Regions from separate parts of the Homo sapiens genome. Here regions 2 and 3 are each linked to region 1. The links come from fine-mapping of genetic effects on gene expression. A gene starts in region 1. Each other region holds a variant in brackets. All regions are shown on one strand. Distances are between the middles of the regions.

Region 1 (8,180 bases):
CTCTTGTCGCCCAGGCTAAAGTGCAGTGGTGCTATCTTGGCTCACTGCATCCTTCACCTCCCGGGTTTAAGTGATTCTCCCACTTTAGCCTCCCAAGTAGCTGGCATTACGGGAGCACACCAACACACCTGGCTAATTTTTTGTATTTTTAGTAGAGACAGGGTCTCACCACGTTGGCCAGGCTGGTTTCAAGCTCCTGACCTCAAGTGATCCACCTGCCTCAGCCTCCCAAAGTGCTGAGATTACAGGCGTGAGCCACCACGCCCGGCTATTTATTTATTTATTCATTGAGACGGAGTCTCCCTCTGTCGCACAGGCTGGAGTGCAGTGGTGTGATCTCAGCTCACTGTCACCTCTGCCTCCCCAGATCAGAGGATCCTCCCACCTCAGCCTCCCAAGTAGCTGGGATTACAGGTGTGCACCACCACACCTGGCTAATTTTTGTATTTTCACTAGAGACAGGATTTCACCATGATGGCCAGGCTGGTCTGGAACTCCTGACCTCAGGTGATCCACCGGCCTTGGCCTCCCAAAGTGCTGGGATCACAGGCTAGTGACTTAACTTTAATAGAGAGTGTTAGAAAAGAGGCTGGCTAACTGAATGTCAGAAGATCCATGAATAGGAAGTTTGGAGAGATGATCCTATCCAAGATCCTTTCAGAGTCAAAGGTTCTTTTGATGAACCATAAGAAGGTGTCAGTACCTTGTTCCTCAGCTCCCATTAACAACAGAAACTGTGTGAAAATAGACTGTAAGGCAGAATGTCAAAGTTACGAAGGTAGAGGGAAATAAAGCCATAGCTGCTTTGTTTACCCTAGTGGTTATTCTGTTTCTGTGTATAAAGATTTAAGTAATGCTTTTTTCTGTTTTTGTTTTTTTTCTCCCCAAACAAGTTTTTTACTTTCAAAATTCTCTAGAGCTTTGGTGTGCTTTCTTTCTTTGGAAACTTCTGGCTCTCCTAATATGTTGTTTTCAGGGTACTGTATTTTGACAAGATCATCCTTAACCCAATATTATAAAGCAACACTTCACAGAATCGCAGTTTGTGTCTATGCGTCGAAGAACCAGCCCTGTGGAACAACTTATGTTCTTTTTTGGTGCTGGTTTTTGACACAGGGTCTTGCTGTGTTGCCCAGGCTGGAGTAGAGTGGCACAGTGATGGCTCACTGCAGCCTTGACCTTCTCCTTAACCCAATATTATAAAGCAACACTTCACAGAATCGCAGTTTGTGTCTATGTGTCGAAGAACCAGCCCTGTGGAACAACTTATGTTCTTTTTTGGTGCTGGTTTTTGACACAGGGTCTTGCTGTGTTGCCCAGGCTGGAGTAGAGTAGCACAGTGATGGCTCATTGCAGCCTTGACCTTCTGGGTTCCAGTGATTCTCCTATCTCAGCCTCTCAAGTAGCTGGAATTATAGGTGTGTGCCACCATGCCCAGCTAATTTTTAATTTTTTTTTAAGAGACGGGGCCTCCCTATGTTGCCCAGGCTGGTCTCAAACTCCTGGACTCACGTGATTCTACCGCCTCAGCCTCCCAACGTGCTGGGATTACAGGTGTGACCCACTGTGCTTGGCCACAACTGGTGTTTTGAGATCATTAATAATTAATAATGAAGTAGCATCTGGTAAAATGTGTACATTAGGATAGCTTAGCTTTTCCCAACAGTCAGTGAGGTGAGTTAGTAATCATCACTCTCATTTACCAGAAACTGGGTTTTGGAGCAGCTTGCCTACCACGATCGTGGTAGATTCTAGCTGGCACTAGAATCCAGAACTTTTGACTTCCACGCCAGTGTTCTTTCTAATACAAAAGGCTACTGTTCTTTCCTAATACTGGGTTTAGAGCCTTACTTGATCGCAGAATACAGTTTTTCCTCTTTTAACCACAGCAGTTCTCTGGAGTAGGATGGCAGGCTACTTTGGCCAAAGACTTGGCCTCTAACTTAAGTGCTGTCCCTAAGTTCATTTTTGTCTAAAGGAAGTCTCCAGCAAACGTCACTACTGATGTCTGTGCATACTTGACCACCTCCTTGAAAACAGGGACGCTAACACTTGCTCCAAAAAAAAATTCTAAGAATGTTAAGAGGGCAGTATTTGTCAAATGGAATGGATTTCACTGGGCAGTGCAGCAAAATGCTTAAGTTCTGCCGTGTTTTTTGTTTTGCGTTGTTTTTTAGAGACACAGTCGCGCTCTGTTGCCCAGGCTGGAGTGCAATGGCTGTTCGCAGGCGCGATCATAGCGCGCTGCAGCCTGGAACTCCTGCTCAAGCGATCCTCCTTGAACTTAGCCGGCCTCAGCTTCCCAAGAACCTGGGACTACAGGCGTGACACCTCGCTGGTTTACTCATTTTTCTGTTGAGGTATTATTGTGTGTTTCCTACTTTTACTATGCTATTTATACTCAACATAGTAGGTGCTGAATAAATACTAGTTAGTATCCTGGCTGGTCCAATACTCAGTAAAAACTGATCTCAGAATACGAAGCTGCTTGAGACCAGGCCCTTGCCCCAGTGTTCAGAGATCCACAGGTTGCTGTGGAGGCCAATCTGCCCAACCTGGAGTTCCAGAAAGGTCTGGGGATGTGTGTTGAGTGAGTCACAGACAGCCAAACTAAGAAAGGAGGAGGTGGTAGGGTGGGGAGGCCTTGCTGGAGAAGGAACAGGTGAGTGAATGCACAGATCTCTGAATCAGCAAACTGAATGAGTGAACCGCAAGCCGATATCGGAGTTGTCATACTTGTTGGGCTAGTCATGTAACCTCCAGGACCTCCATTTCCTTATCTGTAAAAAGAAATAAATAGTCTACTTATTTGCGATTATGTGAAGATTCAATAAGGTAATATTTGTAAGTATTCGCACTTGTACTTGGCATATCAACTGGCACAAAGTAAGCGTTCAATGTTAGCCACCGTCACCATTATGCGTTCATATATTTTATTTTTATTTTTTTGAGACGGAATCTCGCTCTGTCGCCCAGGGTAGACAGAATACAGTGGCGCAATCTCAGCTAACTGTAACCTCCTGGGTTCAAGCGATTCTCCTGCCTCAGCCTCCTGAGTAGCTGGGATCACAGGCGCGCTCCACCACGCCTGGCTAATTTTTTCGTATTTTTAGTAGAGACGGGGTTTCACCATGTTGGTCAGGCTGGTCTCGAACTCCTGACCTGATGATCCGCCCGCATCGGCCTCCCAAAATGCTGTGATTACAGGTGTGAACCACCGCGCCCGGCCTACGCTTTCATAATTTAATAATACCTTATAATAATTATGAACTGTGTCATTCCACGAATAATTTATTCCCTGGTCGTTGACTGCGAACGAGGTTGACAAGGATTCATAAACAGCCATTTCAGTCCCAAAGAGCTTTTAGACAAGGAAGCCAGGACCGGCTTCACAATCCGAGACAAGCGGCAGCGTGACGTCCCCACGTCCGCTCCCAGGGTCACGTGACCCGCAGCCCCGCCCGGACTGAGTGGGTCCCCAGCGGCTGCGACAGCAGCGTCTGCGCCTGCGCGGAGGCAAGCGCGCTCTGCGGCGCGGTCCGCTGTGGAGGCGGCGCGAACGGTCAGGGGGCGGCCGATGGCTTTGAGGGGCCCTGCGGGCTTGGGGCCCGGCTCTCGAAGGCCGTTGGACGAAGCGGTGGCAGGGGCCGAGGGCCGCGAGGCGCCGGCCCTTGTGGCGGCGGGAGGCGCGCCAGAGGACGATGAAGAGGACGATGGCCGTGGCCGGGGCCTGCTGCGCTGGGACAGCTTCTCCGCCTGGCTGCACTGCGTGTGTGTGGTGGGCTTCGACCTGGAGCTGGGCCAGGCCGTGGAGGTGAGGCCCGGCCCCGCCCTTTCTCGGCGCTCCTCCCCTGCGCCGGGGCGGCTGCAGCAAAGCCAGCGGCCCGCGGGCTGACCGGCCAGGACCCTGTCCGCGGCGCATCCGGGCGTGGCCAGTCTCCCCTCCCGCGCTCTTTCGGGCTGCGGTCCTACGGCACTTCCCGTGGGAGGATCTTGGGCTGCGGCTAGGGGTGAAAAGTTCTCTCTAGGCCCCTCCTAAATACTTGTTGATGTTCATCCTGTTCTTTCTTTATTTCTTTTAAACGCAGAGTCACAGAATTAACTAAAAGGGTTAGTAGCACCCACCCGGAGAAGCCCGCAGGCAGGATGTTTGTTTGGTACTTTTTCAAGAACAATGCCCATAACAGATGATGAACTCTAGTAGCCGAACTTGCACAACCAAGTTTTAAGGCTCAGATTGTTTTAGTCATTTGCAGTAACTGTTTGAGCGTTTCCCTCAGCCTGAGTCGAAATGCTTATCTCAGCACGCATTTTCTCCCTTTCCTCCTTTTGTGCCTCATTTCTGTTTTTTTTTTTTTTTTTTTTTGAGACGGAGTTTTTGCTCTTGTTGCTCAGGCTGGAGTGCAATGGCGCGATCTTGGCTCACCGCAACCTCTGCCTCCCGGATTCAGGCAATTCTCCTGCCTCAGCCTCCCGAGTAGCTGGGGTTACAGGCATGCGACCATGCCCGGCTAATTTTGTATTTTTAATAGAGACGGGGTTTCTCCATTTTGGTAAGGCTGGTCTCGAACTCCCGACTCAGGTGGTCTGCCCGCCTAGGCCTTCCAAAGTGGTGGGATTACATGCGTGAGCCACCGTGCCCGGCCTCATTTCTGTTATTTTTTTTTATGTTGCCTCTGGAACAGTTGGTGTGAAACTACTGTCAAGATGAATATAGGGAACATCATTTGCTTGTCAATCAGTCAACTTTTCCATTCTTATGTATGGCCCCTTACCGAAAGGCTTTAGAAACATCTATTCTTGACGTTGTTGAAGGTCTTTTTAGCATAAGGAATTGCTTGCTTTCATGTGTCCAAGGAAATTGTTATCAGAAGGGCGTTTGTTTAGACGTTTTGGTTTTGGTTTTTTTTTTTTTTTTTTTTTTTTGGTATTGGTGACAGATTTCGATTTCATTAATACTGTAGTGGCCTGGTTGACTAAGAAAATTGGCTAGGGGTAGTTTTCTTAATGCGAAGCTACTGCTTTCGTATTCGGCCTGCCTTCTGGATGTTTTATTATAACACAGTTCAGCGACATTAAGTTTCCACTAAGAACCAGGCATTATGTTAGTTGTGGAGCATACAAATAGGATGTGCTCTAATCTGTATTTGTAGATTGAGGCAATAATTTAGAGGAGAACCAAGAATTAATCATAGTAGCTGATAAGGCCAAATGCAGTGCCTGGCACCTAGTGGCATTCTATAAATACTTTTGATAGAATAGGTGAATATGTGAGCAATTCTTTATCTTATTAAAGTAAGAAAAACAGTTCCCAAAGATTTTGAGTAAGAGATTTATAAGCCATTTATTATTCACCTTGCCATGTTAACCTGAAGTTATATGTACAGCAAGATACAATTTAACCAGAAAGCATAAGAATGGGTTGTTGTAGTTGATTGTGTTTTTAAATAGCTAAAGGAGATTCTTTTGGATTCTCATTATTTGGGACATTCTTTATAACGTGAATATGTTTTTTGACCAAATAAACAGAAAATATATTTGAGATGCTGCAAAAATGTGAATTATTAAAGGACTTATTTTGAATTTCATTTTCCATAGTGTATGCCACTGTATAGAGTTTTTTCTAGGTCAGGAGTTCTTAACCTTTTGCTTCCTGGATCTTTTAAAAATATGAACATTGTGAATTTTCCACTAGGAAAAGGCTGAGTAAGATGAAATCATGTATGTGGTTCCATATATGTGGTTTCCAGCTATTTAAGACATAAACCTAGTAGGGCTTCAGAAAATGGCTAGAGTTCAGAACCAGGGAAACCTCTTGGTTTTGCTCTTTTTTTGTGTGCAGATCTTGTTTATATTTCATGTTCCCTGCAAACTGCCTTCTTCCCCTTCTCTGATTTTTTTTTTTTTTTTTAAAGACAGAGTCTAACTTTGTCAGCCAGGCTGGAGTGCAGTGGTGTAATTTCGGCTCACTGCAACCTCCACCTCCCAGGTTCAAGTGATTCTCCTGCCTCAGCCTGCCAAGTAGCTGGGACTACAGGTGCATGTCACCATGCCCAGCTAATTTTTGTTTTTTGAGAGAGAGAGTCTTGCTCTGTTGCCCAGGCTGGAGTGCAGTGGGGCAATCTCGTCTCCCTGCAAGCTCCGCCTCCCTGCAAGCTCCGCCTCCCAGGTTCACGCCATTCTCCTGCCTCAGCCTCCCAAGTTGCTGGGACTACAGGCACCCGCACCACGCCCGGCTAATTTTTTGTATTTTTAATAGAGACGGGGTTTCACCGTGTTAGCCAGGATGGTCTCGATCTCCTGACAGTGTGATCTGCCCACCTCAGCCTCCCAAAGTGCTGGGATTACAGGCATGAGCCACCGCGCCTGGCCTGCCCAGCTAATTTTGTTTTTTTTGTTTTTTTGTTTTTTTTAGTAGAGACAGGGTTTCACCATGTTGGCCAGGCTGGTCTTGAACTCCTGACCTCAAGTGATACACCTGCCTCAGCCTCCCAAAGTGCTGGGATTACAGGCGTGAGCCACCGCACCTGACTTTTTTTTTTTTTTTTCCTTAGAGACATGGTCTGCCTCAGATTGGAGTGCAGTGGCATGATCATAACTCACTACAACCTCGAACTCCTAAACTCGAGGGATCCTCCTGAGTATCTATGAATACAGACATGCACCACTACACCCGGCTATTTTTAATTTTTTTTGTGGGGACAGGGTCTTGCTATGTTGCCCAGGCTGGTCTCAAACTTGTAGCCTCAAACTGTCCTGCTGCCTCTGTCTTCCAAAGTGCTGGGATTATAGGTGTTGAGCCACCATGCCCAGCCCTTCTCTGATCTTTAAGGTGAGAAGCTAACGTTTTTAGCCACTTCAGTGAAAAAGAGTGAATCTTTAACTCACTTCCAAAGCCAGAGGAAGATAATCTGGCCTGGTTTGGGGCAGGTTCCTACTCTGATACAATTGGCTAAAGCCCTGAGTAGAAGGGGGAGTGGTTCACCTTGCATAAAATGTCTTTTAAGGCCCTGTCCTAAGTGAAGGGGGTTAAGGAGGTCTTTGAGCTAGGAAGAAACTGAACAAGGTGTTGACTGCAGGGGGTGTGCTGAGCTTCTTTTCCCCTGAAGTGGCTCTGGAGGCATTACCACAGAATCAAAGTGTCCTCTGGAACAAGGTTTGAAACCTCCTGGGTTTGATATACTGTACCTCACTTTTAGCTTTGAAATTACCAATTATTTAGTAAAGCCTTAATTATCCGAATACAGAATTACCTTATTTATTCAAGTTTTTTTTTTTTTTCTGAGTGAATAATAACATACTCATTGCTGAAAACTTGGCAAGTAAAGAAATCATAAACACTAGGCCGGGCATGGCGGCTCATGCCTGTAATTCCAGCACTTTGGGAGGCCGAGGCGGGCAGATCACGAGGTCAAGAGATCGAGACCACCCTGGCCAACACGGTGAAACCCCGTCTCTACTAAAAATACAAAAATCAGCTGGGCGCAGTGGCATACACCTGTAGTCCCAGCTACTCGGGAGGGTGAGGCAGGAGAATCGCTTGAACCTGGGAGGTGGAGGTTGCAGTAAGATCGGGCCACTGCACTCCAGCCTGGCGACACAGCAAGACTTTGTCTCAAAAAAAAAGAAAAATTATAAACACTAGAAAATATCACTCTTAATTCTACTAAGAGGCAACTGCTATTAATATTCGGCATTTTTGTTAATACTTTTTTTCTTTATATAATTTTGTATCTGTCAAGGATTAACTTGATTGTTAGGAACAGAAACCTCAAATAAACTTAAGTAAAGGGACAGTGATTGTAAGGATTCCAGGCAGTCTTTTGGAATCCAAGTGTGTGGGAAGCAAGGATGAACCTGTGGGATTTGGAAAGCCCCAGGCCTTTGTCTCTGGAGCTGTGTGTTTTTTTTTGTCTTTGGTCTTTGCATGTCTGTTCTTTTCTCCATGCTGAAGCTGGTTTGTGCTGCAGTGGCCTCAGTTTCTGCTCCCCCGTTACTCTGCTTGACTTTGGGTTTCCATGGTACTAATTTTAGCCAAACTCTTTTTCTGGAATGAGGCTGAAGCTTAATATTGGAGTATCTGATTGGCTCAGCATGGGACAGGTGTCCCATTTTGTTCACTTGTGGTTAGGAGACAAGGTTTCGCTAGCAGTAGCAGTCACTTAGGCTCACCCCTGCAA
Region 2 (8,180 bases), 250 kb before region 1:
TCAGCCCTTTTGCCCTTTGATTCCCCAGGCTTCTGGGAGGAGGCTTAGGTTCCAACCTGGCTCCTTTCTCAGGACAGCTTTAGAACTGAGGCATGTGGTGAGAAGAGGGGAGCGGGGGCTCAGCAGCTGAGTTTGAACCTCCTCTCCTTCACTTACTGAACTGCATGATCAGGAACACCAATCTGACCTTCAGTTTCCTTCCTTGCAAAATTACTCCTTTTCCATAAGTGGTAATTTTATTTGGGCTTATCATTCTCATGAGGCCTCCATGGGGTCAGGGATGAGAAAGCACAGGGTCTAGCAAGAAACTGGCACATAAACATTAAAAAAAAATTTCCTCATCTTCAAATGTGACTCCCTTGGCTTTTTTGAGGAAATCATTCTGAGCAGGAGAGTGGAATGCAAAAGCAATTTAAATAATTTTTTTCCAAAAGTGGAAAATATCTTTTTTTTTTTTCCTCTGTCTCACTCTGTTCACCACAATACAATCTCCACCTCCAGGTTCAAGCGATTCTCCTGCCTCAGCCTCCTGAGTAGCTGGGATTACAGGTGCCCACCACCACAACCAGCTAATTTTTGTATTTTTAGTAGAGACGAAGTTTCACCATGTTGGCCAGGCTGGTCTCGAATTCCTGACCTCAGGTGATCCACCCGCCTCAGCCTCCCAAAGTGCTGGGATTACAGGCGTGAGCCACTATGCTCAGCTGAAAATATCTTTTAATTTAAAAAGTTACTTCATTCTGTCAATTCGAAGACGCACATTTTTTTCACATTTCAACATCTCAAAAATGCAGATGTGTCTAATAGATGACACATTGTAGCAGTTTGCTTTCAGGGGAGTACAGAAAATAATTGTCTTTCAATCAATGGCATCTTAGACTCAGGAAATGTGGTCTAAAAGGGATATATGTTCATTGTGTAAAGTTTTTCTAATTATTATTATTATTTTATTTTTGAGACAAGGTCTCCCTCTGTTGCCCAGGCTGGAGTGTAGTGGCCTGATCACAGGTCACTGAAATCTCAACTTCCCCAGCTCAAGCAATCCTCTCGCCTCAGCCTCCTGAGTAGCTGGGGCCACAGGTGCACATCACCATGCCCAGTTAATTAAAAAAAATTTTTTTTTTGTAGAGACGAGGCCTGTGTTGTCCAGGCAGATCTTAAACTCCTGAGCTCAACTGATCCTCCTGCCTCAGCCTCCCAAAGTGGGGATTACAGGCGTGAGCCACGGCACCCAGCACCGTATAAAGTTTAGACACACAGAAGTATACATAATAAAGACTCCCTGAGTTCAGCTCTCCAGAGAATACCACCACCCTAGAGAAAGTCCACTTTGTGTGCAAGAGCATGCTTCTGTTTTTGTTCTAATTGCCCAGAAACTCTCCTCAGACCAGTCACCCACACCTTCTCCTATTTCTGAGAGCCAAATTAATGCTCAACTAAGGATAGCAACACATTATAAATTAGGATTTCATGATTAGTCACTTTCCCCACCCCCAGCCCACGTGGCTGGCACCTTTCCTCACTGCCCAGGCCTGTCTGGAGTGGCAGTGCAGTGCCCTGTGCTGACCAGAAGGTGTGGGGCTGAGGAAGTCAATGATTCAAGCCTTTACAAAAGTGTACGTGCAGTGCAGTTTGTAGTTTTATTATTTGCAGGTGACAAAAATCAGGGTGGTGTGGGGCCTGAAGGGTTTGGAAAGCTGGAAAGTACTGGGAAATTAGAAAGGTATGTCTTGCTCAAGAACTGGTTTTGTTTCTTGTTTTTGAGATGGGCTCACTCTGTCACCCAGGCTGGGGTGCAGTGGTTCGATCACTGCTCACTGCAGCCTGAGATTCCCGGGCTTAAGTGATCCTCTTGCCTCTCAGCCTCCAGAGAAGCTGGGACTATAGGCGTGCACCACCATGCCTGGCTAAGTTTTTTATTTTTTGTAGAGGTTTCACTATCTTGCCCAGGCTGGTCTCCAACTCCTGGCCTCCCACCTTGGCCTCACAAAGTGCTGGGATTACAGGCGTAAGCTACCACACCCAGCCTCAAGGACAGTTTTTTTTTTTTTTTTTTAAACCATCATACAATTTAGTAGAACCACCAGCAGCACCATGCTCAGCTCTATGCCAACTTAACCAAACCAGGAAGAAGGCGTTCACTTGGCCCACAGGAGGTCAAGGGCTGTGTGAGCTTGTGCCGACTCTGCTGAACAGGTACTAGCTATCAGGAGCAAAGCGTTGTGAAGGATTCTGAGATCCACGTCTTTCCAAGAAGACAGGGTCAATGACTTGTCCAAGTTCATTTGACTACCAATCGGTGGAACCAATCTGGAATGCAGTAGTCTATTGTCAAGCAAATCCAGGGCTCTTTCCACCATGCCATGTGGTGGCCTTCCGAGGGCCACCCTCTCCTCACCCCCATCAGCAACATTAAAAACTCTTCTTTGCCCTGAGTCTACCTCTGTGGCTTCATGTGGATCGCAACTTCAGCAGGAGACTGAGATGAGGGGGAAGGGGAAGGAGGCGTGGAAACCCCAGCCTGAGGGACCTCTGGCTATGAATGAGGCTTCTGTCTGCCTGCGCTGTGCGTCTGGAATTTTGTATGAAAGCAATGAACTGGAAGGAGGTGAAAGCACGTTCGCAAAAGCAAGGCCACCACAGGCCCTCTCCCTTGCTTATAAAAGACTTGCTTTGTTTCAGGCAAAGCAAAGGAGAAGCTAGGGATATGCTGAGGTTTGGTGGCGCTCAGGTGTTTGAGGTTAACGTGCCAATGACTAGGAGGAGGTGGCCATCAGAAAAATCAGGAGCCCAACCCGAACCTGAGGTTTCGGACTCCTAATCATCTTCACAGCCATGCTCATATTTGTGTAATGCTTTATAGTGTGCGGAATGCTTTCTCAGACATTTTCTCAACAGAGGGAGAGCTTAGGGAGGGATGAAGAGCGCCGATTCATGCAGCCTTCTATCTGGCTGTCTGGGTGACTGTGGTGTGCCAGGCACTGTGGATGCTGTGCTTTGTTCATCACTGTCCCCATCCTTAGGAGTCTGACGGATGGGTAGAAGTCCTGGCCTCCCTGCCTGCCAGCTTCAGGACCTTGCACAAGTTAATCAATCGTTGTAGCAGCTGCAAAAGGGAGAATGACAGTGGCTGCCTAGCAGGGTGGCTGTGAGGATTAAAGGAGCTCTGGGGGTGAGGGGCCTGGCTTATGACAAGGCCTTAATCGATGGTGGCTATTAGCCGTCATGGCCAGTGAGATGCGAACAGTAAGGCTGGGCACAATACGGTCTAGCCTGGAAGCATCTGGGTATGCCTGGATGTCATTCCCACCTAGAAAAACGGTATGGTGGTGGGCAGCAAGGGGTTACGGGGAGTTGCTGCATCGTGTCAGGCAGGCTGTGGACTCCTGGTGGGAGGGGCCCACAGGGCTGGGGAATGCTGGTTAATAGAGTCCAAGGAACTGTGCGGCTTTCCACTTTAACCACAATATACAAGTACTGAGATCGAATGAGGGTCAAATTGTATCATTCCTCTCCTCCATCCCTCCCCTAGGTCCCCATCTCACTCAGAGGAATAGCTACAATCCTCAGAATGACCTACAAGGTCCTACACAATTGGGTCCCCACTACCTCCCTGACCTCTGCTCCTCCGGTTCTCTTTCTTCCTCTCTTTGCTGGCCACAAGGGCCTCCTTGACCATCCTCAAATATGCCAAGCACGCTGTGGTCTCGGGGCCCTTGCACATGCTGTTCCCACTGCCAGATATGTTCTTCCCCCAGATATTTATTTTATAGTTCCCTCATTTCCTTCAGACTTCTCAAACGCCATCTTTTCAAAGAGGTCTTCTTTGACTACTTTATATAAAATAGCAACCCGCTGATG[G/A]TGGTCCCTATCCACCACACATGCTGAATCTCCCCCCACCAGAGCACTTATTAACCTATGACATATTTAATTAATTAATTTATTTTGAGATGGAGTCTTGCTCTGTCACCCAGGCTGGAGTACTGTGGTGCAGTCTTGGCTCACTGCAACCTCTGCCTCCCAGGTTCAAGTGATTTTCCTGACTCAGCCTCCCGAGTAGCTGGGACTACAGGCATGCACCACGCCTGGCTAATTTTTGTATTTTTAGCAGAGATGGGGTTTTGCCATGTTGTCCAGGCTGGTCTTGAACTCTTGACCTCAAGTGATCCACCCACCTCGGCCTTCCAAAGTGCTGGGATTACACGTGTGAGCCACTGTGCCCGGCCCTGTGACATATTTTATAACATATACAAGCATGTTATCTGTCTCTTTCTCCACTAGAAATGTAAGTTCCATAAGGGCAAGGATTTTGTTTGTTTAAGTGTTAGGACTTAGCACTATGTTTGGCATGCAACGGGTGCTCAAAAAATATTATTGAATGAATCAATTACTGTTGAGAGAAAACAGCAGGCTGCTATACAGTGGTATGGCGGGAGTCCTTTTTCATCACCTAGAACTAATATTTGTTTGAGATTGCTTCATGTAAGCATTGACTAAACCCTTTACATGCATTAGCTTATTTAAGCAGGTACTATTATTATTATTATTTTTAGATGGAGTCTCGCTCTGTTGCTTAGGTTGGAGTGCGATGGCATAATCTCAGCTCACTGCAACCTCCACCTCCCGGGTTCAAGCGATTTTCCTGTCTCAGCCTCCTGAGTAGCTGGATTACAGGCTCCTGCCACCACGCCCGGCTAATTTTTGTATTTTTATTAGAGACGGCGTTTCACCATGTTGGTCAGCCTGGTCTTGAACTCTTGACCTCGTGATCCACCCACCTCAGCCTGCCAAAGTGCTGATATTACAGGCATGAGCCAACGCACCCAGCCCAGGTACTATTATTATCTCATATTTATTTATTTATTTATTTATTTATTTTAGAGGGAGTCTTACTCTGTTGCCCAGGCTGGAGTGCAATGGCGCAATCTCGGATCACTGCAACCTCTGCCTCCTGGGTTCAAGTGATTCTCCTGCCTCAGCCTCCAGGGTGGCTGGGAATATAGGCACCCACCACCACGCCTGGCTAATTTTTGCATTTTTAGTAGAGATGGGGTTTCACCATGTTAGCCAGGATGGTCTCGATCTCCTGACTTCATGATACGCCCGCCTCGGCCTCCCAAAGTCCTGGGATTACAGGCATGAGCCACCACACTCAGCCTATTTTTTATTTTTTAACACAGAGTCTCACTCTGTTGCCTAGGCTGGAGTGGAGTGGTGCAATCTTGGCTCACTGTAACCTCTGCTTCCTGGGTTCAAGCGATTCTCCTGCCTCAGCCTTCTGAGTAGCTGGGATGACAGGTGCCTGCCACCACGCCTGGCTTTTTTTTTCTTTTTACTTTTTAAATTTTTTTGAGCCAGAGTCTTGCTCTGTCACCCAGGCTGGAGTGCAGTGGCGCGATCTCGATACACTGCAAGCTCCGCCTCCTGGGTTCAAGTGATTCTCCTGCCTCAGCCTCTCGAGTAGCTGGGATTATAGGCATGCACCATGTCCGGCTAATTTTTGTATTTTTAGTAAAGACGAGATTTCACCATGTTGGCCAGGCTGGTCTTGAACTCCTGACTTCAGGTGATCCACCTACCTTAGCCTCCCAAAGTGCTGGGATTACAGGCGTGAGCCACCGCACTCAGCTGCCTGGCAAATTTTTGTATTTTTTGGTAGAGATAGAATTTCACCATGTTGGCCAGGCTGGTCTCAAACTCCTGACCCCAAGTGATCCGCCTGCCTCGGCCTCCCAGAGTGCTGGGATTACAGGTGTGAGCCACTGTGCCCAGCCTTATCTTGTTTTATTGAAGAGGAAACTGGATCTCAAAGGAGTTAGTTATCTTACTTCAGTTAGTAATGGCACAGCCAGAACTGTGTCTAGTCCTGATGACCCGAGTATGGGCTCTTAGCCATCACACAATGTTCATTCCTGATGGAATCTGAAAGGGTGGATACCAGAACTATAGTAAGTTTACAGGTGATCTGTATCCCTTCTTCATATTTTTCTATACTTATGTTTTTTCCCCAAGAAGCATGTATTAATTTTATATTAGGAAAAAAAAGTTGTTCCACTTGTCCATCTATCCACTAGGCATAACCAAAAGAGTGGGGACTCAATTGAGGAAGGTTGCTCACAGCTGTTTTGGGAGCCCCTGAATCCCAGAATCTCTCGGAACTTGGTTAAGAGCAGGAAGGTTGGGGGGACCCCAGGCTCAGATGATGATGGCAGGAAGATGATGTCCAGGTAGGATGTTAGGATTGCGACTGTTAGCACAGGCAGCAAGGGCTGAGATGGAAAACAAAGCTTCTCTGCAAGTGCAGTGGTACGACGTCTTTTCCTTCTCGATTCTTGTGTTGCACAGACCGTAAAAATGTCTCAAGGTCTGAGGCTGGCTGGGTTAATTGATGCCACCTTTCCCAAAATGTGTTTGGCTTTGGACCTGTGACAACAATCACATTTTCATCCAGAAAGAACAGGCAGACTTATCTTAGATGACCCAGCCTCATACTTCTCAGAGTGGGTTTCTGTCCCTGCAGGATCTAGTTAGGAGGAAAGAGATGCTGTGACAACTTCTTGACTAATTCCTTCAGATCCATAAGATCCTTGTCCCCCCAACCCTCCAGTTGCCAGTAAACACTATATTAGGGCAAGAAACCAGCACTCCTGGTACAAAGTAAAGAGAATATCCTTCTTTCACGGAAATACACACTAAAGTGTGTAGGGGCAAAGGAACAAAATGAATGACATTCTCAAACAGTTCAGAAAAAAAATACGCACCTGTGTGTGTGTGTGTGTGTGTGTGTGTATACACACACAGAGAGAAAGCAAATGAGGCGAGGTGTAAACTGGAAAATCTGGGTGAAGGGCAAATGTGAGTTCCTTGTGCTATTCTTGCAACTCTTCTGCAAATTTAAAATCATATCAAAGTAAAAAGTTTCCAAAAAAAAAAGTTTCAAAAAAAAAAAAAAGTATATGTATGCCGAATTAACTAAAGTGCTCAGAGGAGACGCTGAGCAAAGGATCCAAGTCCTTTTCTTGTGTTAAATCAATGCAAGAACTTGAGAAAATTACGATCACCCCATTCTTCCCATGGTTCACTGTGGACTCTCTTAAGCTTCCGGTATGGAAAATATCCTGCTCGGAAGAGAGCTTTGATCAGAAAAATGCAATAAATGCCTGGAGCCAGAGATCTGAATCTTTGCAAGGGACTGTAGGAGATAACACAGAAAAGGAAACTTGAGTACCTCCCCATGGGAAGGCCAAGGCAGGGTCAACATGGAGAAAATCTGAAAGCCTGCAGGCCACACTTTCCAGAGCAGTGGGGGGCTGGAAGGTGGCACAGGCAAGTAAGGCACAGCCCTGCTGTTAGGGGTTTATAGTTTAATAGGAGAGAGAAATGACACCAGGCAACTGGGTCATTTGGGGTAGAAAATGCCCCAAATGGGGTAGAAAATGCTCAGGGTAAGAGAAGGGTCACAGAAGAAATCCTCCAGGGGCTGAGAGCAGGGAGAGGAATTTCTGATGTAGACTGGGATGAAGACAGAGAGGCAGATACAGCAATACCCTGCACTGTAGCCTCATGATAAGTTCTCTTTCTGCTTAAGCCAGCCAGCTGGCTCATCACAACCAAAAGTGTGAATCCTCCCCTGCACTGGGGGCAGTTTTTGTACAATGCAGGCACACACACAGCGAGCTCCCTCTTGCCTCAACCATTTCTTTTGCCTGAAATGTCCTCTTCCTGATGTGCTTTCCAAATGCTGCTCTTCCACCAGGCCTAGCTCCAGCCAGCATGAAACCACTCATTCACACCTGACATGTTCCCACCTTCCCCTTGCAATGCCTTTCTGTTATATCCCCAATAAGCCCAAATCTTTCCAGTCCTTCGAGGCCCGCCTCCAATGTCTCATCCCCTTCCAGTTTCTCAGGCTGCTTTCTGGAGAAGTCATTTAATTCCGAGTCAATGCAAACCATCGATATAACTTGGTTGTTCAAACTTTTTTTTTGAGACAGGGTCTCCTGTTGCCCAGGCTGGAGTGCAGTAGTGTGACCATGGCTCACTGCAGCCTCAACCTCCCGGGCTCAAGTGATTCTCCTGCCTCAGCCGTCCAAGTAGCTGGGACTACAGGCATGTGCCACCACACCCAGCTCATTTTAAATTTTTTTGTACAGACAGGGTCTCATTATGTTGCCCAGGCT
Region 3 (8,180 bases), 34 kb before region 1:
TCCACATCTATAAATATAAATCTATTCTAGCTTTCTAAACGGATGCATAGTATCACACTCTATATAAATAGACATGGTGAACATCCCTGTCCCATTTCTTTTCTTCTTTTAATTTATTTATTCAAATAAAATACGGCTTAGAGCCCACACTCTGAAGATGGATAAGAATTATTTCTGGGATTTCTTTCTGTACTGCAGTGAAGTATACAAGACCTCTAGAGTTTGGGTGGTCGAGTGGTCCTGGGTCACTGAAACGGGGTGATGCTGTTGATTTACCTTCATCTGACCAGAAAGCTGTCACCAGCACTCTTACTGCTCCTTCCAGGGTCTCAGTGCTTAGTGACCTGTCTCCCAGGCATCCTGCAGCCATCCCTGCTTGAGTCCTGTCTTCTGTTGCAAACTTCAGGAGAAGAAGGCATTTGGAAATCCTAAAAATCCCAGGCTGGGAGTGGTGGCTCATGCCTGTAATCCCAGCATTTTGGGAAGTCAAGGCGGGTGGATCACCTGAGGTCAGGAGTTTGAGACCAGCCTGGCCAACATGGCAAAACCCGGTCTCTACTAAAAATACAAAAAATTAGCCAGGCGTGGTGGTGCACACCTGTAATCCCAACTACTTTGGAGGCTGAGGCACGAGAATGGCTTGAACCTGGTAGGGCGGAGGTTGTAGTGAGCCGAGTTTGCGCTGCTGCATGCCAGCTTGAGTGACAGAGTGAGACCCTGTCTCAAAACAAACAAACAAACAAACAAAATCCCGGCCGGGTGCAGTGGCTCACGCCTGTAATCCCAGCACTTTGGGAGGCCGAGGCATTCGGATCACGAGGTCAGGAGTTTGAGACCAGCCTGGCCAATATGGTGAAACCCCATCTCTACTAAAGATACAAAAAATTAGCTGGGCATGGTGGTGTGCGCCTCTAATCCCAGCGACTCGGGAACCTGGAGCAGGAGAATTGCTTGAACCTGGGAGGCGGAAGTTGCAGTTAGTCGTGATTGCGCCACTGCACCCCAGCCTGGGTGACAGAGTAAGACTCCATCTCAAAAAAAAAAAAAAAAAAAATCCCACAACCCTTCCCCAGACTCAGTGCGATTCATCCTTTCTTTACGTTAGCAAAAAGTTCTTGGAAAACAAAGGCCTATTAATTCTTTAGGTCAAGGGAAAGGTAAAACTCTAGCCCAGGCTAGTTTCTTAGGAGATGGGGAGAAGGGGAACTGCTGCTCAATCTTTCCAGATAAACCTGTAACAGAGAACTAGACAGTTGACTTTGGGGGTGTTATGTAACCTCCTTAAACCTCAAATTCTTTATAAGATAGCAACAAATAGCAACTCTATCCTGCCAGCTGTAGAGGCCAAAAAACTTAGTTGCTTGGCCTAAGTAAAGAATGTCTCTCATTCTCTCAGCTGCAAGTCATCACATTCTGCCTGTTGAAACTTCAAAGAGATCCAGAATCTGACCTTTTCTCCCCACATCCACTGTTTGCAGCTTGGTCCATCATGTCTTACCTGGGCTTTTGCAGTAGCCTCCTAACAGGTCTCCTTGTGATCACTTTTCAAGGCACTAGCCCGTGACTTTTTAAAATGCATGATGGCTTTACATCTAACTTGGAGAAAAAAGCAAAATTCTTAGACTAGCCTAGAAAGCCCTTCTATGTGAATTAGCCCCACTTCTCTCACCTCAGCCCCAACCATCCTCCTCTTCAGTCGTCTACCCTTGCCAAACCTGTCAAGCATGCTCCTTGCCCTTGCTGTTTTCTTGGCCACTAGCTATTTTCAAGGCTAATGGTTGTCAGTTGTCTCCAACCATTAGCTCAAACCATTCCCTTTATCAGTATCCCCATACCCTGCTTCATTTTTCTCCACAGCACTTTTCATTGGCACACTGTATGTTTATTTATTTTTTTTATTATTTCCTTTTTTTTTTTTTTTTTTTTTTGAGACAGAGTCTTGCTCTGTCACCCAGGCAGGAGTGCAGTGGTGCTATCTCCGTTTACTGCAACCTCCGCCTCTCAGGTTCAAGCTATTCTCATGTCTCAGCCTCCCGAGTAGCTGGGATTACAGGCATGCACCACCAGACCCGGTTAATTTTTGTATTTTTAGTAGAGACGGGGTTTCACCATGTTGGCCTTCACCATGTTGGCCAGGCTGGTCTCGAACTCCTGACCTCAAGTGATCCACCTGCTCCAGCCTCCCAAAGTGCTGGGATTACAGGTGTGAGCCACCGTACCCGGCCTTATTATTTGTCTCTTAAAGCTGGAATGTAAGCCTGTTGAAGGAAGAGACTTGTGCCATAAGCAGTGCCTGGCACGCATTAGGGGCTCAATAAATATTTCCTGAATGAATGAATGGAAAATGATAATCCCTGTCTTTCAGAGTTGGGGTGAGGATTCATTGAGATAATGTAGTGCCTAGCAAATAGTAAGGACTATGTAAATACAGATTACTATTGCATATGATTATTATTATGTTTAAGCTAGGCTTTGAAGAATATATTTTTTAAAAGGGCATTCCAGCAAAGAGACTGACTGGAGCAGAAGCCTAGAAGTAGGAAGTACCCTGTAGGTGGGTGTGAACTGCATTAAGAATGTGTGAGAAAACTGGTTATTGGCAAGAGATAGGGCTGGAAATAGAGTGACAGAGAAGAATGTGGAGGAAATTGAATTAAAAGCTCAGAAATTTAGGTTTTTGTCCCTAACAGTAGGGGGACCATCTGGGATTTTCAGCAGAGAAAGCTATGATAAGATATTGGGTTTTGTGCCACTGCACTCTAGCCTGGGCGACAGAGCGAGACTCCATCTCAAAACAAAAGATATTGGGTTTTTTGTTTGTTTAAGATGGAGTCTTATTCTGTCACCCAGGCTGGAATGCAGTGGCGCAATCTTGGCATACTGCAGCCTCCACCTCTCAGGCTTAAGCAATTCTCCTGCCTCAGCCTCCCGAGTAGGTGGGATTACAGGTGCCCGCCACCACACCCAACTAATTTTTGTATTTTTAGTAGAGACAGGGTTTCACCATGTTGGCCAGGCTGGTCCCGAACTCCTGACCTCAAGTGATCCGCCGGCCTCGGCCTCCCAAAGTGTTGGGATTACAGGCGTGAGCCACTGCGCCAGCCAGATCTTGGTTTGATAATTGATTATCCTGTGTTGCAAAGTTGCTTTTTCTAGCTTGTAGGGAGTGGATTTGTTAATCAGAGAAAACAATTAGTTTAAGAAATGTTTGTTTTTGTTTTGGGTTTGTTTGTTTTTGTTTGTTTGTTTGTTTGTTTTTTGAGACAAGGCCTCACTCTCGTCACCCAGGCTGGAGTACAGTGGCGCCATCATGGCACACTGCAGTGTTGACTTCCTGGCCTCAAGTGATTCTCCCACCTCAGCCTCCCGAGTAGCTGGGACTAAAGACATGCGTCACCACACCCAGCTTCTTTAAGAAACTTTGATGGACTATTTTGAATAGAAGCTGATGGGACCTTGCCTATGACCTTATCTATAACCCTTCTTTTCATGTAAGCAACAAACATGCTCCGTGGGGGCGGGTGGAGCCTG[G/A]GAAAACCTGAGAGTCAGAGCCTTGTGATTCACTTTTAGACAATCTGCACTGCCTGGGGTTCTAATTCAGTTATTTCCTCTTTCAAGATTCACGTTTGCTTAACTTTTGGATTAAGTTTATTTCAAAACTTGATGGTGTTTTATGCTTTGGTTTTCCATTTCATATACAATGTCTAAACATATCTCTCTCCATTATATACCCCATTTTCAGTATAAAGTCTTGCTATTTAAAGTGTGGTCCTGGGATCAGCTGCATTACCTTTTTTTTTTTTTGAGTTGGAGTCTCACTCTGTCATTTAGTCATTTTGGCTGTGCAGTGGCATGATCTTGGCTCACTGCAACCTCCGCCTCCCAGATTCAAGCAATTCTCCTGTCTCAGCCTCCCAAGTAGCTGAGATTACAGGCACACACCACCACACCCAGCTAATTTTTGTATTTTTAGTAGGTATGGGGTTTCACCATATTGGTCAGGCTGGTCATGAACTCCTAACCTCAGGTGATCCACCTGCCTCAGCCTCCCAAAGTGCTGGGATTACAGGTGTGAGCCATCATGCCTGGCCAGGACCAGCTGCATTATCATCACTTGGGAGCTTGTTAAAAATACATAATTCTCAGGACCCACTCAGTCCCACTGAATTAGCAAATGCATTTAACAAGATCCCTGGTGATGTGTGTGCACTTGAGGTTTAAGAAGCACTCCTCTTAAGCATCTCTTAACCCATGGCTCCTCCAGTCTCCCTCAAGAGCCCCTTAGCACCTCTAATATTCTAAATAAACTTTCTGAACAAGTTCCTTAGCCACTCTCTCCAACTAGAAAGTTTTCTACACTCTACTTTTTGGATAGAAAATTTGGGCTGAGCATGGTGGCTCATACCTGTAATCCCAGCACTTTAGGAGGCCAAGGTGGGTGGATCACCTGAGGTCAGGAGTTTGAGACCAGCCTGACTAACATAGTGAAACCCCATCTCTACTAACAACACAAAATTAGCTGGATGGGGTGGTGCTCGCCTGTAATCCCAGCTCCTAGGGAGGCTGAGGCAGGAGAATCTCTTGAACCCGGGAGGAGGAGGTTGCAGTGAGCCAAGATCGTGCCATTGCACTCCACTTTGGGCAACAAGAGAGAAACTCCATCTCAAATCAAATAAATAAATGTATAGAAAAATTGAAGCAGCAATTGCTCTAGATGTTTCTCAAGGTACAATCTCTAGATCACTTGCATTCGAATAACTTAGAGGGTGTATTAAAAGAGTGCGGATTCCTAGACCCACCTTACATCTGCTGAATATGACTCTTTTGAAGGGCCCTGCAAACCACTTTTTAAACTAACATCTGATATATATCAGCCATCAAAGAATCATCAGAAAAATTCTGGCTGCAGAAACAAATGCAGTCCCTGACCTTATTACCTACCTGTCCTCAGTACTGAATTTTCTTTCCAGCTCTAACCCTGCTCCCTCATCCTGACCTGCATTCTGCTGTTTGAAATACAGTAATTTAACTATGACCGTATTGTTAGTGCTTCTTGTGAAAGATCCCACACAAATGTGGTTCTCGCATCTCTTTTTCAAATATATGCAAACAGGATTCTAGAATTTCATTTTTTGTTAGTTATCAGTCACTAATATTCATACAAATTCCTATCTAACAATAAAACATTTATCTCTCTGCTTTTTAGTATTTTATTATGAAATGAAAGATAATGTTTTTCTTGTGTTTAATGCTTTTTTTTACATCATCATGTTCTCCTTCATCTGTATCTTGTATCAGGCCAGCCAGTTTTGTCGTCAATCCTATTGGAAAGGTACCTGGGAAGGGGGAGGGGGAATGGCAGATGTATTATTTGTTAGTTTGTGATATTATATAGCTAAATTTGACCTTATTATACCATTCTTCTGGGCCTGGGAGGTGAGGATGGGGCAGTGACAAGTGCTGAAACAGGTGGTTGGTGCCTGCAGTTTACTGGTCAGCATTTTTTTTTTTTTTTGAGATGGAGTTTCCCTCTTGTTGCTCAAGCTGCAGTTGCAATGGCACGATCTTGGCTCACTGCAACCTCAGCCTCCCAGGTTCAAGTGATTCTCCTGCCTCAGCCTCCCAAGTAGCTGGGACTACAGGTGCCTGCCACCATGCCTGGCTAAAAGTCAGCCTTTTTTTTTTTTTTTTTGAGACAGAGTTTTGCTCTTGTTGCCCAGTTTGGAGTGCAATGGCACAATCTCAGCTCACTGCAACCTCCGCCTCCCAAGTTCAGTCTATTCTCCTGCCTCAGCCTCCTGAGTATCTGGGATTACGGGCGTGTGCCACCACGCACAGCTAACTTTTTTGTATATTTAGTAGAGACGGGGTTTCACCATGTTGGTCAGGCTGATCTTGAACTCTTGTCCTCAGGTGATTCGCACCCCCTCAGCCTCCCAAAGTGCTGGGATTACAGCCGTGAGCTACCGCTCCCAGCCCAGCCTTTTTATTACTAGTGACTACATCAAGGACTTCCACTGCTGACACAAAAGTCGAGGAGAATGGCTGAAAGCTTCTCATGTAGCTATTAGTTAAGAAATTAAATTACACTGTTTGAAGCCACATTAATAGATATTAAATGTTAAAGTAATAAAATGACATATCTTGCAAATTAAATTTGAATGAAGTTCTAATCTTAATGAAGAGGGATCAAAAGGGAGACAGAATAGAATGCGTCCAGATTTCTGCATCCACCCCCAAGAGTGTTGTTTTAAATTAAAAAGTACAGCTGGGTTCAGTGGCTCACGCCTGTGATCCCAGCACTTTGGGAGGCTGAGGTGGACAGATCACCTGAGGTCAGGAGTTCGAGACCAGCCAACATGGCAAATACCATCTCTACTAAAAATACAAAACGTTAGCCAGGCATGACTTGGGGGGGCGCCTGTAATCCCAGCTACTCTGGAGGCTAAGGCAAGAGAATTGCTTGAACCTGGGAGGCAGAGGTTTCAGTGAGCTGAGATGGCGCCACTGCACTCCAGCCTGGGCGACAGAGTGAGACTTTGTCTTAAAAAAACTTATCTCAAAAAATTAGAAAGTAAAAAACACATCTTCTTTTCTCTCTCAAAGAGGCTCAAGGCTTCAAAAGCATTCTATAATGTGTCCCTCTCCATGTATCCTTTCTGAAACCCCAGCAAGATATAAACTTGTCTTTTTTTTTTTTTTGAGACGAAGTCTTGCTCTGTCTCCAGGCTGGAGTGCAGTGGCGCCGTCTCGACTCACTGCAACCTCCACCTCCCAGGTTCAAGCAGTTCTCCTGCCTCAGTCTCCCAAGTAGCTGGGACTACAGGCGCGTGCCACCATGCCAAGCTAATTTTTTTGTGTTTTTTTAGTTAGAGGCAGGGTTTCACCATGTTGGCCAGGATGGTCTCAATCTCTTGACCTCGTGATCCGCCCGCCTTGGCCTCCCAAAGTTCTGGGATTACAGGTTTGAGCCACTGCGCCCGGCCAATCTTGTCTTTTTAGATCCTCTATAATACTTCTTTCCTTTTAAATTCTCATTTTAGTTATCTTACAATTCCTTAATTTGTGGTCATATCTGAGCCTCCCCTTCTTGGTTGTATTTCCTTGGCCAGTTGTAAATTCCCTTAAGCAGAAACTGTGCATTCTCTTCTTTGTGCCTATCGACAAGTATTTATTGGATTTACCATGTTCAGCACAGTAAGGCATACAAAAGCATAAATTACAAAACAATTTAACTTGAAAGAAAAATCTTACCCATATAAAAGAAGCTAATATGAGATTGCATATACGTCTATGACTAATGGAGATATTAGTCTTTTTTTTTTTTTTTTTTTGAGACAGAGTTTTGCTTTTGTTGCCCAGGCTGGAGTGCAATGGCGCGATCTCGGCTCACCGCAACCTCCACCTCCCAGGTGCAAGCAATTCTCCTGCCTCAGCCTCCTGAGTAGCTGGGATTACAGGCATGTGCCACTATGCCCGGCTAATTTTGTGTTTTTAGTAGAGACGAGGTTTCTCCATGTTGAGGCTGGTCTCAAACTCCTGACCTCAGGTGATCTGCCCGCCTCTGCCTCCCAAAGTGCTGGGATTACAGGTGTGAGCCACTGCGCCAGTCCAGAGATACTAGTCTTGATCCAATACAGTTCTGTCCTGGTGGGTACAAAACCACTGAAGTTGTGTATGGGTGCCTGGGCCCTCAACTCTAAGAAAAGTGGCCATAGAACCTGCAGTTAAAGTCCCAGTGATCTAAAGGAAGTAGATGCCCTCAAAAGAGCTGCTTATATTCAAACAGAAAATGAGGCCAGTGAATATCTCCAAGCCATAAAATGATAAACCAGAGGCCATGCTTCTTCATTCAATTTTCATGGAGTCCATAATTTCCAGGATTTATGTATACTTCAAGGAGGGAGGGACACGAGAATATTGGTCATTACCTGAGACAGGCAGATGAAGCCAATGCCAAATTTAATTTGATTTAGGAAACTCAAAGTAAAGATGGAAGCTGGGCATGGGGGCTTGTGCCTGTAATCCCAGCACTTTGGGAGGCCGAGGCAGGAGGATTGCTTGAGCCCAGGAATTTGAGACCACCCTGGGCAACATAGGGAGACCCCCATCTCTACAAAAAAAAAATTAATTTAGATGGGTGTGATGGCACATGGCTATGGTTCCAGCTACTTGGGAGG

What was found. PIP is the estimated chance that this variant, and not a neighbour inherited with it, causes the effect.
Region 2: its variant is the best candidate, but not a certain one, in a credible set for the expression of DENND6A in whole blood (TOPMed, PIP 0.56).
Region 3: its variant is the best candidate, but not a certain one, in a credible set for the expression of DENND6A in whole blood (INTERVAL, PIP 0.84).

What each region holds. Positions count from the first base shown.
Region 1 is chr3:57,688,416-57,696,595 of GRCh38, reverse strand. It overlaps DENND6A (DENN domain containing 6A), which reads left to right and starts at 3,519. Exons shown (of 20, transcript NM_152678.3): 1 at 3,519-3,814. The coding sequence starts at 3,578. It overlaps DENND6A-DT (DENND6A divergent transcript), which reads right to left and starts at 3,391. Exons shown (of 2, transcript NR_135550.1): 1 at 3,254-3,391; 2 at 1-2,780. RefSeq lists silencers at 3,520-3,619, 3,730-3,969 and an enhancer at 3,691-4,191.
Region 2 is chr3:57,943,336-57,951,515 of GRCh38, reverse strand. No RefSeq gene overlaps it. Among named protein-coding and RNA genes, the nearest start is that of FLNB, 61 kb to the left of the region's middle. The variant G/A (reference allele first, on the strand shown) is at 3,862.
Region 3 is chr3:57,722,647-57,730,826 of GRCh38, reverse strand. No RefSeq gene overlaps it. Among named protein-coding and RNA genes, the nearest start is that of SLMAP, 30 kb to the left of the region's middle. The variant G/A (reference allele first, on the strand shown) is at 3,532.